Linked DNA regions of Homo sapiens. The gene in region 4 interacts genetically with the main gene of each other region. Each region holds a gene or a part of one and is shown on either strand. Other genes may lie near its edges.

Region 1 (3,500 bases), on a different chromosome or scaffold from region 4:
GAAACCCCATCTCTACTGAAAATACAAAATTAGGCTGGGCGCAGTGGCTCATGCCTGTAATCCCAGCACTTTGGGAGGCTGAGGCGGGCGGATCATGAAGTCAGGAGATCGAGACCATCCTGGCTAACATGGTGAAACCCCGTCTCTACTAAGAATACAAAAAAAATATTAGCCGGGCATGGTGGCAGGCGCCTGTAGTCCCAGCTATTTGGGAGGCTGAGGTAGGAGAATGGCGTGAACCTGGGAGGCGGAGCTTGCAGTGAGCTGAGATTGTGCCACTGCACTCCAGCCTGGGCAACAAGAGCGAGACTCTGTCTCAAAAAAAAACAAAAAACAAAAAACAAAAAAAAAATTAGCCAGGCGTGGAGGCACATGCCTATAATCCCAGCTACTCAGGAGGCTGAGGCAGGAAAATCGCTTGAACCCGGGAGGCGGAGGTTGCAGTGAGCCAAGATCGCGCTATTGCACTCCAGCCTGGGCAACAAGAGCGAAACTCCATCTCAAAAAAAAAAAAACACACAAACCATGTCTTCTGCTCAAGCCTGGGTGACAGAGTGAGATCCTGTCTCAAAAGAAAATAATAATAAAAATTAAAACCTGGGTATAGGGCCGGGTGCATTGGCTCACACTTAAAATCCCAGCACTTTGGGAGGCCAAGGTGGATGGATCACGTGAGGTCAGGAGTTCGAGACCAGCCTGACCAACATGGTGAAACCTTGTCTCTACTAAAAACACAAAAATTAGCCGGGTGTGATGGCACGTGCCTGTAATCCCAGCTACTTGGGAGGCTGAGGCAGGAGAATCGCGTGAACCCGGGAGGCGGAGGTTGCAGTGAGCCGAGATTGCGCCATTGCACTCCAGCCTGGACAATGAGAGTGAAACTCCATCTCAAAAACAAAAACCTGGGTATGTATCTAGAAGTGGAAAAACAAAAAAAGGAAATAAGTTATGAAAATAAAAACCATGTCTTGAGCTGGGTGCGCTGGTGTGTGCCTATATCCCTAGATTCTCAAGAGTTGAGACAGGAGGATCACTTGAGCCCAGGAGTTCAAGTCCAACTTGGGCAACATGACAAGACCCTTGTCTCTTTAAAAAAGCAACCCAAACCATGTCTTGAAAAGCTATTTAATGGTCAGACACGATGGCTCACGCCTGTAATCCCAGCACTTTGGGAGGCCGAGGCAGGCGGATCACTTGAGGTCAGGAGTTCAAGACCAGCCTGGCCAACATGGCAAAACCCAGTCTCTACTGAATGAAAATACAAAAATTAGCTGGCCTAGCAGTTGGTGGTGGCAGGTGCCTGTAGTCCCAGCTACTTGGGAGGCTGAGGCAGGAGAATCGCTTGAATTTGGGAGGCGGAGGTTACAGTGAACCCACATGGCGCCACTGCACTCCAGCTTGGGTGATAGAGTGAGACTCTATCTCAAAAAAAAAAAAAAAGAAAAGCTATTTAAGGAACCAAAACATAGTTTGACTGACTGCAAGAAGTATCACAGGGAATGTTAGAGTGTTTTATTAATTTCTTTGTCAGACAAGTGTTTAGGAAACTCTCACTCCAGGCCTAATGCTGTGCTAGGCTCTGCAAATGCTAAGAGGGGGAAGTTACTGTCCCTGCTTCCAAGGAGATCATGGTCTAGTGGGAAACCCGACACGTTCAGGTACCTTCAGATGGGCACTCAGAAGAGTAAGCCCTTAGTTAATGTTTAAAGATGTTTAAAGATGTCTGAGACTCATAGGTCAAAGTCAGATTTCAGTTCCACCTTATTAGACCTGCACTGCTAAGGAGCTGCTTTAGGTAAGGCTGTGTTCCTAGTCACCAGGGTGTTCAAACACAGTGCTGGGGGCAATGTGGGAATAGCCTTCTTTTATTTAGGAAGTAATGTGAAGTCAGTTTCATGAATAGATCTTACTTTAAGCATTCATTGAGGTTTTTGGCAAGAATAGAGTACGGTATATGAAGGTGTTTCCTAATCTCCCTGACACCAGGAATAATCTAGGGCTCATTAGAGATGTCAAAGATCTGTTCTAGTTTCTTAACCTAAAACAAGAGTGTTTTAGTTCCATTTTATAGGCGGGGAGTCTGAGCCAAACATGTTATGTCACTTTCCAAGTCTCCATAGCACAGAAGTCTTCTGTCTCCCCATCCTGACTTTCCCAGCTCATAGGGACTGTCAAAGGCAGCAGCTCTGGCCGGCTGTGATGCCTCATGCCTGTAATCCCAGTAATTTGGGAGGCTGAGGCAGGAGGATCATTTGAACCCAGGGGTTCAAAACCAGCCTGAGCAACATAGTGGGACCCTGTCTCTACAAAAAATAAATTAAAAAAAAAAAATAGCCAGGCATGGGGTATGTGCCTATGGTCTCAGGAACTCAGGAAGCTGAAGTGGGAGGATCACTTGAGCCTGGGAGTTAGAGGCTACAGTGAGCTGTGACTGCACCACTGCACTGGATAATAGTGAGACTCTGTCCCCTACCAAAAAAAAGCAAAACTATATACAGATATAAAGTAGCAGCTCTGTTGCTGATAGAAGGAACAGTAATGAGGAGCCCTGCAGGTCTTATTCCACTCTTTCTAGCTGCAAGCTTTCTTCCTGGTGGCAGATGACATCATGGATTCATCCCTTACCCGCCGGGGACAGATCTGCTGGTATCAGAAGGTAATGTGGGCAGGAAAATAGCAGTGGGTATGGGGACAGGCCACAGGGAGGTGGTTATATATGGCCTGGTTGAGGTGTTGGGGTGATGGCTCTTAGTATGAACCGAGACTAGAGATTGATTGCTTGTTTTTCTGTCTGTCATGACAGCCGGGCGTGGGTTTGGATGCCATCAATGATGCTAACCTCCTGGAAGCATGTATCTACCGCCTGCTGAAGCTCTATTGCCGGGAGCAGCCCTATTACCTGAACCTGATCGAGCTCTTCCTGCAGGTGTATTGCAGACAGGGCCCGATGCCCAGAGGGTGCCCATGGTAGCCTTGGCCTCTATAGGACATGCTCATCTAGCTGGTTTCAGGGTACAGGATTGCAGCGTGCCTGGAAGGGAAAGAAAGCGAGGAAGGGTGTTGGGAAGTGGGGTTGTGGTAGTGGCAAGAAAGGGCTTCTCTGTCCTGTGTAATTGGAAGAAAGGGTGATAAAGGACTGTGTGTATGAATATGGGCCTTAAGTTTTGGGGCTTTCTCCCCTTCTGTTGCCTTTCTGATTCTGCCCAGTTGTCAGCTGGTATGGGATGTTGGGCTTGGGATACCAGGGTTTCGCATATCTGGAGAAAGCCTGGCTCATGGACCGTCTTTGTCTTGCTTAGAGTTCCTATCAGACTGAGATTGGGCAGACCCTGGACCTCCTCACAGCCCCCCAGGGCAATGTGGATCTTGTCAGATTCACTGAAAAGAGGTGAGGGGAGGTGAGGGACAGCGCGAACCATGTCTGGACAGCGAGGGAGGGCTCAGGATGTGCATTGCCCTCCTGAGGAGTTTCTCTTCTCCCCTTACTCAGGTACAAATCT
Region 2 (3,500 bases), on a different chromosome or scaffold from region 4:
TGAGCCGAGATCGTGCCACTGCACTCCAGCCTGGGAGACAGAGTGAGACTCCGTCTCAGAAATAATAATAATAATTAGCCAAGCGTGATGGTGCGCACCTGTAGTCCCAGCTACTCAGGAGGCTGAGGTGGGAGGACTGCTTGAGCCCAGGAGGTCAAGGCTGCAGTGACCTGAGATGGCACCAACTGCACTTTAGCAGTGCCACAATCACAGCTCACTGCAGACTTGAACTTCTGGGCTGAAGTGATCCTCTTGCCTCACCTCCCAAGTAGCTGGGACTACAGGCACCCACCACCATACCTGGCTGGTTTCTATTTATTTAATTTATTTTAAAGACAGGGTCTCACTGTTGGTAAAAGAGTGAGACCTTATCTCATTAAAATAAAATAAAATAAAATAAAAAGGCTGCTGATGTACCCTAAGAAAAACTTTAAAAAGAAAGAAAAAAAGGGCCGGGAGCGGTGGCTCATGCCTGTAATCCCAGCACTTTGGGAGGCCAAGGTGGGTGGATCACCTGAGTGAGGTCGGGAGTTCGAGACCAGCCTGACCAACATGGAGAAACCCCATCTCTACTAAAAATACAAAATTAGCCAGGCGTGGTGGCACATGCCTGTAATCCCAGCTACTAGGGAGGCTGAGGCAAGAGAATCGCTAGAACCCAGGAGGCAGAGGTTGCAGTGAGCCGAGATCACGCCATTGCACTCCAGCCTGGGCAATAAGAGCGAAACTCTGTCTCAAAAAATAAAAAAATAAAGAAATAAAATAAAGAAAAAAAGGCCAGGCATGGTGGCTCAAGCTTATAATCCCAGCACTTTGGGAAGCTGAGGTGGGCGGATCGCCTGAGGTCAGGAGTTTGAGACCAGCCTGGCCAACATGGCAAAACCCCATCTCTACTAGAAATATTAAAATTAGCCGGATTATACCGGCAGGCGGGTATAATCCCAGCCACTCGGAAGGTTGACACAGGAGAATTGCTTGAACCCGGAGGGCGGGGGTTGCAGTGAGCCGAGACTGCGACACTGCACTTGAGCCTGGGCAAGAGTGACACTTCACTCCAGCCTGGGTGAAAAAAAAAAAAAAAGAAAAAAAGATAATAGTGTTTTGTTAAGGGAAACCTAGCCTTTTTTTTGGAGACAGGGTCTTGCTAGAGTGTCCCCAGGCTACAGTGCAGTGGCATGATCATAGCTCACGGTTCCTTGACCTCCTGCAGCCTCTTGAGCAGCTGGAACTACAGGTATACAACACCACAACCACACTGGCTATTTTTTTATTTTTCTTTTGTAGAAATGGGTATTGCTATGTTGACAAGGCTAGTTTTGAACTCCTGGCCTCAAGCAATGCTCCAGCTTCAGAGCTGGTGCTGAATCCTAGAATTTTTGATATAAGGTGGCTTCTAGTTATGAATTTTTTTTTTTCAAGATGGAGTTTCGCTGTTGTTGCCCAGGCTGGAGCGCAATGGCACAGTCTCAGCTCACTGCAAGCTCCGCCTCCCAGGTTCAAGCGAGTCTCCTGCCTCAGCCTCCTGAGTAGCTGGGATTACAGGCATGCACCACCACGCTCAGCTAATTTTCATATTTTTAGTAGAGACAGGGTTTTTCCATGTTGGTAAGGCTGGTTTTGAACTCCTGACCTCAAGTAATCCACCCACCTCAGCCTCCCAAAGTGCTGGGATTACAGGCGTGAGCCACTGCGCCCAGACTTGTTCTGAAATTTGAAAATTCTGTGTCTCCAGGGTGGAAACATCACACACCGGGGCCTGTCCTGGGGCGGGGGTAGCGGGGAGGGATAGCATTAGGAGATACACCTAATGTAAATGACGAGTTAATGGGTGCAGCACATCAACATGGCGTTATGTATACATATGTAACAAAACTGCAAGTTGTACACATGTACCCTAGAACTTAAAGTATAATAATAATAAAAAAAACAAAATTCTGGTCTCCCTTGTTTTTTGAGACAGGGTCTCACTCTGTCACCAGGCTGCAGTGCAGTGGCACAATCTTGGCTCACTGCAACGTCCGCCTCCCTGGTTCAAGCGATTCTCCTGCCTCAGCCTCCCAAGTAGCTGGGATTACAGGCACCTGCCACCATGCTCAGCTAATTTTTGTATTTTTAATAGAAACAGAGTTTCACTATATTGGCCAAGCTGGTCTCCAACTCCTAACCTCGTGATCCGCCCACCTCGCCCTCCCAAAGTGCTGGGATTACAGGCATGAGCCACCGCACCCTGCCTATTCTGTGTCTCTCTTAAGTAATTATTCCCCTCCCAAACCACCAACTCCAAAGGCAACGGAATAAAACAAGACATGGCTCAGAGAGAAGAGATGGGCTCGGCCAGGTGCGGTGGCTCACACCTGTAATCCTAGCACTTTGGGCAGCCAAGGCGAGTGGGTCACTTGAGGTCAGGAGTTCAAGACTAGCCTGGCCAATATGGTGAAACCCCATCTCTACTAAGAATACAAAAATTAGCTGGGTGTGGTGGTGGGCACCTGTAATCTCAGCTACTCGGGTGGCTGAGGCAGGAGAATTGCTTGAACCCAGGAGGCGGAGGTTGCAGTGAGCTGAGATTGCACCACTGCACTCCAGCCTGGGCAACAGAGCGAGGCTCTGTCTCAAAAAAAAATAGTGATAGGCAGATAGGCTCCTATACACGAAGGGACATAATTTTGAGCTAATTGAGAACTGAGGCATCTTGTATCCTGCCTCATCCTTGTGCGGCAATATCCCAACCACCGCATGCCAGGTCCCACTTCCAAGTCAGCCCTACATGAATAGAGGATGCAGATAGATCCTGGAGAACCTCAGGCCACTTCTCTTATATCTGAGACCTAGATGGCCCGCCAAGTTCCAGAAACATTTAACGAATTCTCAGGATCAGGATGCCTAGCAATGGCTAGCTGACCTCAGACAAAGAGGTTACAGGGAACGGCCAGGCGCGGTGGCTCACGCCTGTAATCCCAGCACTTTGGGAGGCCAAGGCGGGTGGATCACGAGGTCAGGAGATCGAGACCATCCTGGCTGACATGGTGAAACCCTGTCTCTACTAAAAACACACAAAAAATTAGCCGGGCGTGGTGGCGGGTGCCTATAGTCCCAGCTACTCGGGAGGCTGAGGCAGGAGAATGGCGTGAACCCGGGAGGCGGAGCTTGCAGTGAGCCGAGATCGCGCCACTGCACTCCAGCCTGTGAGACAGAGTACGACTCCATCTCAAAAAAAAAAAAAAGAAGTTACAGGGAACTTCTAGAGGTTGGAATGAGAGGGAGGGACCTGAATTCCTCCTACTCTTGAGTAACGTTGGAGAAGGAAAAGTATCTTTTTGTCCCTGAAGAAAACCCTTGTGATCACTGGGCAATTGTTCACATCTGTAATCCCAGCACTTTGGGAGGCTGAGGTGGGAGTATCGCTTGAACTCAGGAGTTTGAGACCAGCCTGGGCAACATATGGAGATGACATCACTGCAAAAAATAAAAATAAGGCCGGACGTGGTGGCTCACGCCTG
Region 3 (3,500 bases), on a different chromosome or scaffold from region 4:
AGATTTTTACTTAGGATGTACAGCTTTCAGATTTGTAGGCAAGGAAAATGAAATTTTCTTTCAAAATAGGGTTTAAACATAGATAGGTTTTAAAAATAAAATCTCCTACTTTCTAGAAGACACATACACTGAAACACCAGAAACATTTGGAACATCAGTTTCCTCTATGTGTTGCTGGTCAAAGACTCAACCTCTTTTTTCTTTCTTTTCCTTAAAAGGTAACCCCTAAACACAGCTAAAACTATGCCATCAGCTGACTCCAAGGTACACACAGTCCTGTATCTGGAACTACTGAGTGGCAGGCATCTTTCTCTGCCTCTGACAGTGGAGTCCCCATCACTGCAGAGCATAGCCAAAGGAGTCAAAGGTCTCAGCGGGTCACTGCCTTATCAACCCTCACCAGTCCCTTATGTTTTTTAATATTTTATAATCTTGACATGACACCAAGATGCTTTAATAAAAAAGCACCTCTAACTCGGTCTTGTATTCACTTACCTTGAGCCTGGGACTTCTCTAGGCTCCTGAGGCAAAAACAGGTAGAGGGGAGATGGTGGAACATAAAACACAATTTTGCTTGGCACCCACCTTGGCGTCTGTCCCCATGACCAGGTCTTTCAATTCGATGATTTTGTCATTGATGGAGGAGCGATATCGTTTCTCAATGATATTATGGGTTGTCCGCCTTTCTCCTTCTTTGGGGGGCTCAAGCTGCTTGACTCCCCCAGGTACCTGCTTAATGGGCACTTTCTCTTGCCCCATCATTACAGGCATTGTGGTCAGAATGGTCCCACTGCTGCCCACCAGGGTCTAGAATAGGGACAGGTACACAGCAGAATGATCCCTTTGTTAGTCTGCATAAAGCAACCTCAACACAGACCTGCCCGCTTTGGCCAAGTGCTGCCAGACCTGGCAGTACTTCATGAGGTCTGAGACTCTTCCTGGGTTAATCAAATCAGGCCCCAAGAAGTCTCAGGAGCCACGGAACCTTGGTTACTACCTCCCTTCAAGAATCACTGCTGATAAACTACACCACAAGAGGATTAACATGGCTAAATATGTTTTAAGTTTTGATCTACGTATGCCAGAAACAAGTCATATGATTTCTGCTTTGCTGTCAAACTGTTAACCACTTCTAAAGTTGTACACGGTGAACCACGAGTTGGCACCAGAGAAAACTTTCTCCTAGTGTATGACACATTTTTTCCTCTCAAATGACAATTAAGCAAATTACTGCATTTCTTTATACAATTTTGCCATCAAAAAGCTCAAGGGCAGAAGTGACACTCTCAATAAGAGCCATTTGATTAAGTAAATAGGCCAACCATGGAGGTCTCCCCTTTTTATTCTTCATCTCTGTTTTCTCCTCTTATTTTTTCTAACTTTATTTTATTTTATTTTATTTTTTTTGAGACGGAGTTTCGCTCTTGTTGCCCAGGCTGGAATGCAATGGTGTGATCTCGGCTCACCACAAACTCTGCCTCCCAGCTTCAAGTGATTCTGCTGCCTCAGCCTCCCGAGTAGCTTGGATTACAGGCATGCGCCACCATGCCTGGCTAATTTTGTATTTTTAGTAGAGACGGGGTTTCTCCATGTTGGTCAGGCTGGTCTCAAACTGCTGACCTCAGGTGATCCACCCGCCTTGGCCTCCCAAAGTGCTGGGATTACAGGCGTGAGCCACCACGTCCTGTTTTTTTGTTTTTGTTTTTTTTTTTGAGACAAAGTCTCACTCTGTTGCCCAAAAGCTGGAGTGCAGTGGCGTGATCACAGCTTACTACAACCTGCACCCCCCTGGTTCAAGTGATTCTCCTGCCTCAGCCTCCTGAGTAGCTGGGAATACAGGCACCCACCACCACACCTGGCTCATTTTTGTATTTTTAGTAGAGATGGGATTTCATCATGTTGGCCAGGCTGATCTCAAACTACTGACCTCAGGTGATCTGCCCACCTCAGCCTCCCAAAATGCTGGGAATACAGGCGTGAGCCACTGGGCCTGGACCAATTTTAGTTTAATTTCTTAAATAATGGCCTCAATATCTAATCAGCCAATAAATAAATAAAAAGGTGCCCAATTTCATTAGTTGCCAATAAGTACGTCATGCACAATAAAAACCACAAATCTTAAGTTTATAGCTTGATGAATTTTACATATGTACACAATGTATATAACCACCCAGACCAAGATATAGCCCATTTCTACCAGCTCAGAAAGTCCCCGCATGCCCCTCCCCTCCTTGTCACCACCGCTCTGAATTCCAGCACCATAGCTTCATTTTGCCTCTTTTTAAACTTCATATAAATGGACTCATTAGCATGAACTCCTTTGGCTTGACACACTATTTCTTTTTTTTTTTTTTTGAGACGGAGATTTGCTCTGTCGCCCGGGCTGGAGTGCAGTGGCGCAATCTTGGCTCACTGCAAGCTCCACCTCCCAGGTTCACGACATTCTCCTACCTCGGCCTCCCGAGTAGCTAGGACTACAGGTGCCCGCCACCATGCCCGGCTAATTTTTTGTATTTTTAGCAGAGACGGGGTTTCACCATGGTAGCCAGGATGGTCTCGATCTCCTGACCTCATGATCTACCCACCTCGGCCTCCCAAAGTGCTGGGATTACAGGTGTGAGCCACTGCGCCCGGTGGCTTGACACACTATTTCTGAGGGACAGCCCCATGTTGTTTCATGCATCAGTAGCTTTTTTTTTTTTTTTTGAGAGTCAGTCTCGTTCTGTCATCCAGGCTGGAGTGCAGTGGTGCGATCTCGGCTCACTGCAGCTTCCACCTCTCAGGTTCAAGCAATTCTCCTGCCTCAGCCTCCTGAGTAGCTGGGATTACAGGCATGCACCATGCACCACCATACCCAGCTAATTTTTGTATTTTTAGTAGAAATGGGGTTTCACCGTGTTGGCCAGGCTGGTCTCAAACTCCTGACCTCAGGTGATCCACCCCTCTTGGCCTCCCAAAGTGCTGAGATTACAGGCGTGAGCCACCGTGCCTGTCAGCAGTTCTGTTTTTTAATTGCTAGGCATAATTTCATTGTATGAATATATCACAATGTGCTTATTTTCCTGTGGATGGACATTTGAGTTGCTTCCAGTTCTTGGATTTTATGAATAAAGCTAGTGCTTCTAAATTTTAATCACCATTTACTCTATCAGATTCTCATGCTATAGGATGCTGAAAGTGGCTAAGAACCTACAACTGAAGGATGGGGTACCTTCCATGTTCTTCACCTTGGAGCCCTTCCCTGCCTGGTGGCCCTAGGGTCCTTCAGAAGTCATCAGCAGGATCTAAGAGGTGAATGGTCTTGTGTGGAGCTATTAGCCAAGAATAGAGGGTCCTTCTGCTATTCTTTTCTACCTCCTTGTAGACTCCAGTACTCCCACATCGAACACACATTGCTAATACTTTTTCGAGCGAAAAACAACTAAGAGGGGTGACATTTACAATTTGACTGATTTGTGCTATAGACCCTCCCATACCTACTCAGCATATAGAGATTTAAC
Region 4 (2,803 bases):
TCAAGCTGGTGCAGGGAGGGTGAAGCTTAGGACAGCTGTCAGCTGGTCCAGCAATGTTTCCTCCTGGCCCAGGCCTGAGCCAGTGCTCTAAGCTCAGCCTCACTTGTCGCCTTTATCAGTGGCTTCTCTGCCTCCACCCACCTGATTGCTGGAGCTTCTCCAGCACACCCAACTGAGATAACACACCCAGTCCCTATGGCTCCAGGGCGGGGACTTTCGCTTGACCTACTGCCCACCGGGCAGGCATTTCTTCTCATTCTCTGAACGCTGTCGGGAGGTAGGCAGGAGACCTGAGTCTTTCCTGAGGTGGTCTTTTCTGGCTGAGCACTTCTCTCTGGGACTCCCCACCTCTGTCATAGGGTTGTGTCCCTCTGTGACACCGGCGTCTGAGTCTAACGTCCCAGCCTTCCTTCCTCCCTCTGCCTAGTCTAATAGCACCCAGCACCTAAAACAAGCCAGAGGGCGGCCAGGGGCCTAGGCTAGCCCCCGGAGGGTCTACTCAGGACTCAAGTGCCAGGAGGGAGGCCTGGACTTTTTTGCCTTAAGGGCTGGAGACCCAGGAAAAGTTCGAAGAGGAAACGCTCATCGCAGCTATACGAGCGTCCACCCTGGACCAGGCGGCGAGTGGGTTGGAGGAGCAAGGCTGGACAGGAAGGGGGCAGGGGCTGCCACGGCAGGCTCGGGAGAGCCCCACCCCCAGATCTCCCTCCGGGCGGCGGCGCAGGCTGCAGCGGAGGAAGCATTTCCTCATTCCAGAGGCTGCGACTCATGGACGTCGGGATCGGCGCCCGCCCCCAGCAGCTCCCCGTCTGGGGACACGGAGGCCCGGGAAGGGGGCGCTTTTCCAGGCTCCTGCAGCCAGGCCTTTCCCCGTGGCCCTCCCCGCCCTGCGCACGCAGTCTGGGCTCTGTCCAGGGTCTCGGGAGGCTCTCGGGTCCCGGCCATCCCTGTTTCGTGGCTGGGGGAACTGCGGCCCGCTCCGGCAAAGCGGGGACCCGAGCCCTTGCCGCCGGTTCGCAGGAGCCCCGGGTTCGATGCTCTGTCAACCTGCTTGGGGTGTCCGTTTCCCGCTCTGCGAGGTGGGGTCAGGCCAAGACGAGGAGGAGCCCGCGCAAGCGCACTCACCACCACGGCGGTGACCGGCTGGCCCGGGATGTAGGACATCTCGACCCTGCTCTGGTCGCCCAGCGCCGCTCCGAGAAGCCGGCAGCAGAGTACCCGCGGTCGCGCCCTCGCTGCTTAACAAAGGCCGCCCCGCTCGGCCCGCCCCCTCATGAATAGTTAACAAACCTCCAGCCAATCACTGGCCGGAGCGCCACTCCGCTTTCGGAAGTCCCTGCGCGTGCGCAGAAAAGCGGGCAGAGGGCGGAGCGTGTCCGGGGCGCCCACGGCGCAGGCGCGGAGGGCGGGGCGGGATCTGGGCGCGTGCGCAGCCCGAGACCTCCCGGCAGTCTTCCGAGCAAGATGGCGCCGCGGGCATTTCTTCCACTGCCCGTCTGAGGGAACGCTAAGTAGTGTGTCCGGCGCCGTGTTCCAGGTAACTGGGCCACCGTGGCCGGGGAACGCAGACGCGCCACCACCTCCCGGCCGGCCCGGACCCTCAATCTCCTCGGCGTCTTTGGAAGATCCGAGGCCCAGGACTGGTGCCAGGTCTCGGAAGCTCCAGGGGGAGGGGGCGGCGTGAACCCAACTCACCGAGCTCCGGGCGCCACTTGTAACTTGGTTTTCTCCGCAGCTCCGCGTTGTTCCGCGAGAAAGCGAGAGGCCGAGCCCGGGCTGGTGCGATGGCCGCGGTGGTGGCCAAGCGGGAAGGGCCGCCGTTCATCAGCGAGGCGGCCGTGCGGGGCAACGCCGCCGTCCTGGATTATTGCCGGACCTCGGTGTCAGCGCTGTCGGGGGCCACGGCCGGCATCCTCGGCCTCACCGGCCTCTACGGCTTCATCTTCTACCTGCTCGCCTCCGTCCTGCTCTCCCTGCTCCTCATTCTCAAGGCGGGAAGGAGGTGGAACAAATATTTCAAATCACGGAGACCTCTCTTTACAGGAGGCCTCATCGGGGGCCTCTTCACCTACGTCCTGTTCTGGACGTTCCTCTACGGCATGGTGCACGTCTACTGAAATGGGGGCCCGGGGGACTTTTTTAAAAAACCAGATCGGGAGGACTGTGGCCAGCAATTAACACCATGTAGACTTCCTTAGTTCTTAAGTGGTTGAATTCGCTGCTTGTTCTGTAACGTTATAAATAATTTATATCTGAAGACGGAGAGCCTGTAATATTCTTCAGATTAAATGAAGCGTGAGACACTTTGTGGAGTTCTTTCCTGCTGTAACGCTTAGGCTGCCACTGATGCAAAATCGCCGAGATTTGACTCCTGGAGAGCAAGGAATGGGCCATAGCCTTGTGTTAAGTCCTTGTATTTACACATAGGCCATTCAGAAACGGGCCCTAAGGGCCTACATAAGGAAAGAACTTATTAACATCCTAAGAAGCAGTAACAGTTAATATGTATTAAGAGCTCCCTGGGCCGGGCACGGTGGCTCATGTCTGTAATCCCAGCACTTTGGGAGGCCGAGGTGGGCGGATCACCTGAGGTCAGGAGTTCAAGACCAACCTGGCCAACATGGCAAAACTCCGTCTCTACTAAAAATATAAATATTAGCCGGGTGTGGTGGCGCGCGCCTGCAATGCCAGGTACTCGGGAGGCTGAGGAAAGAGAATCGCTTGAACCCTGGAGGCAGAGGTTGCAGCGAGCCGAGATCGTGCCACTGCATTCCAGCCTGGGTGATGGAGCAAGACTCCGTCT

What was found. A genetic interaction does not mean that the proteins touch.
Region 1: changes in EMC6 (region 4) and FDPS together harm fitness more than expected from each alone (negative genetic interaction), as found in Homo sapiens cells (one large-scale study listed by BioGRID).
Region 2: changes in EMC6 (region 4) and NUTF2 together harm fitness more than expected from each alone (negative genetic interaction), as found in Homo sapiens cells (one large-scale study listed by BioGRID).
Region 3: changes in EMC6 (region 4) and SREBF2 together harm fitness more than expected from each alone (negative genetic interaction), as found in Homo sapiens cells (one large-scale study listed by BioGRID).

What each region holds. Positions count from the first base shown.
Region 1 is NC_000001.11:155,315,366-155,318,865, forward strand, and holds part of FDPS (farnesyl pyrophosphate synthase), read left to right. Parts: intron 1-1,488; exon of another isoform or gene 1,489-2,575; coding exon 2,576-2,656; intron 2,657-2,803; coding exon 2,804-2,926; exon of another isoform or gene 2,927-3,031; intron 3,032-3,299; coding exon 3,300-3,388; intron 3,389-3,490; coding exon 3,491-3,500. UniProt on the Homo sapiens protein: Key enzyme in isoprenoid biosynthesis which catalyzes the formation of farnesyl diphosphate (FPP), a precursor for several classes of essential metabolites including sterols, dolichols, carotenoids, and ubiquinones.
Region 2 is NC_000016.10:67,849,933-67,853,432, reverse strand, and holds part of NUTF2 (nuclear transport factor 2), read right to left. Parts: intron 1-3,500. UniProt on the Homo sapiens protein: Mediates the import of GDP-bound RAN from the cytoplasm into the nucleus which is essential for the function of RAN in cargo receptor-mediated nucleocytoplasmic transport.
Region 3 is NC_000022.11:41,871,105-41,874,604, reverse strand, and holds part of SREBF2 (sterol regulatory element-binding protein 2), read right to left. Parts: intron 808-3,500; coding exon 586-807; intron 1-585.
Region 4 is NC_000017.11:3,667,363-3,670,165, forward strand, and holds EMC6 (ER membrane protein complex subunit 6), read left to right. Parts: upstream 1-1,449; 5' UTR 1,450-1,537; exon of another isoform or gene 1,538-1,650; intron 1,651-1,695; exon of another isoform or gene 1,696-1,735; 5' UTR 1,736-1,784; coding exon 1,785-2,117; 3' UTR 2,118-2,303; downstream 2,304-2,803. Other genes in the region: TAX1BP3 (tax1-binding protein 3), read right to left, coding at 1,126-1,164.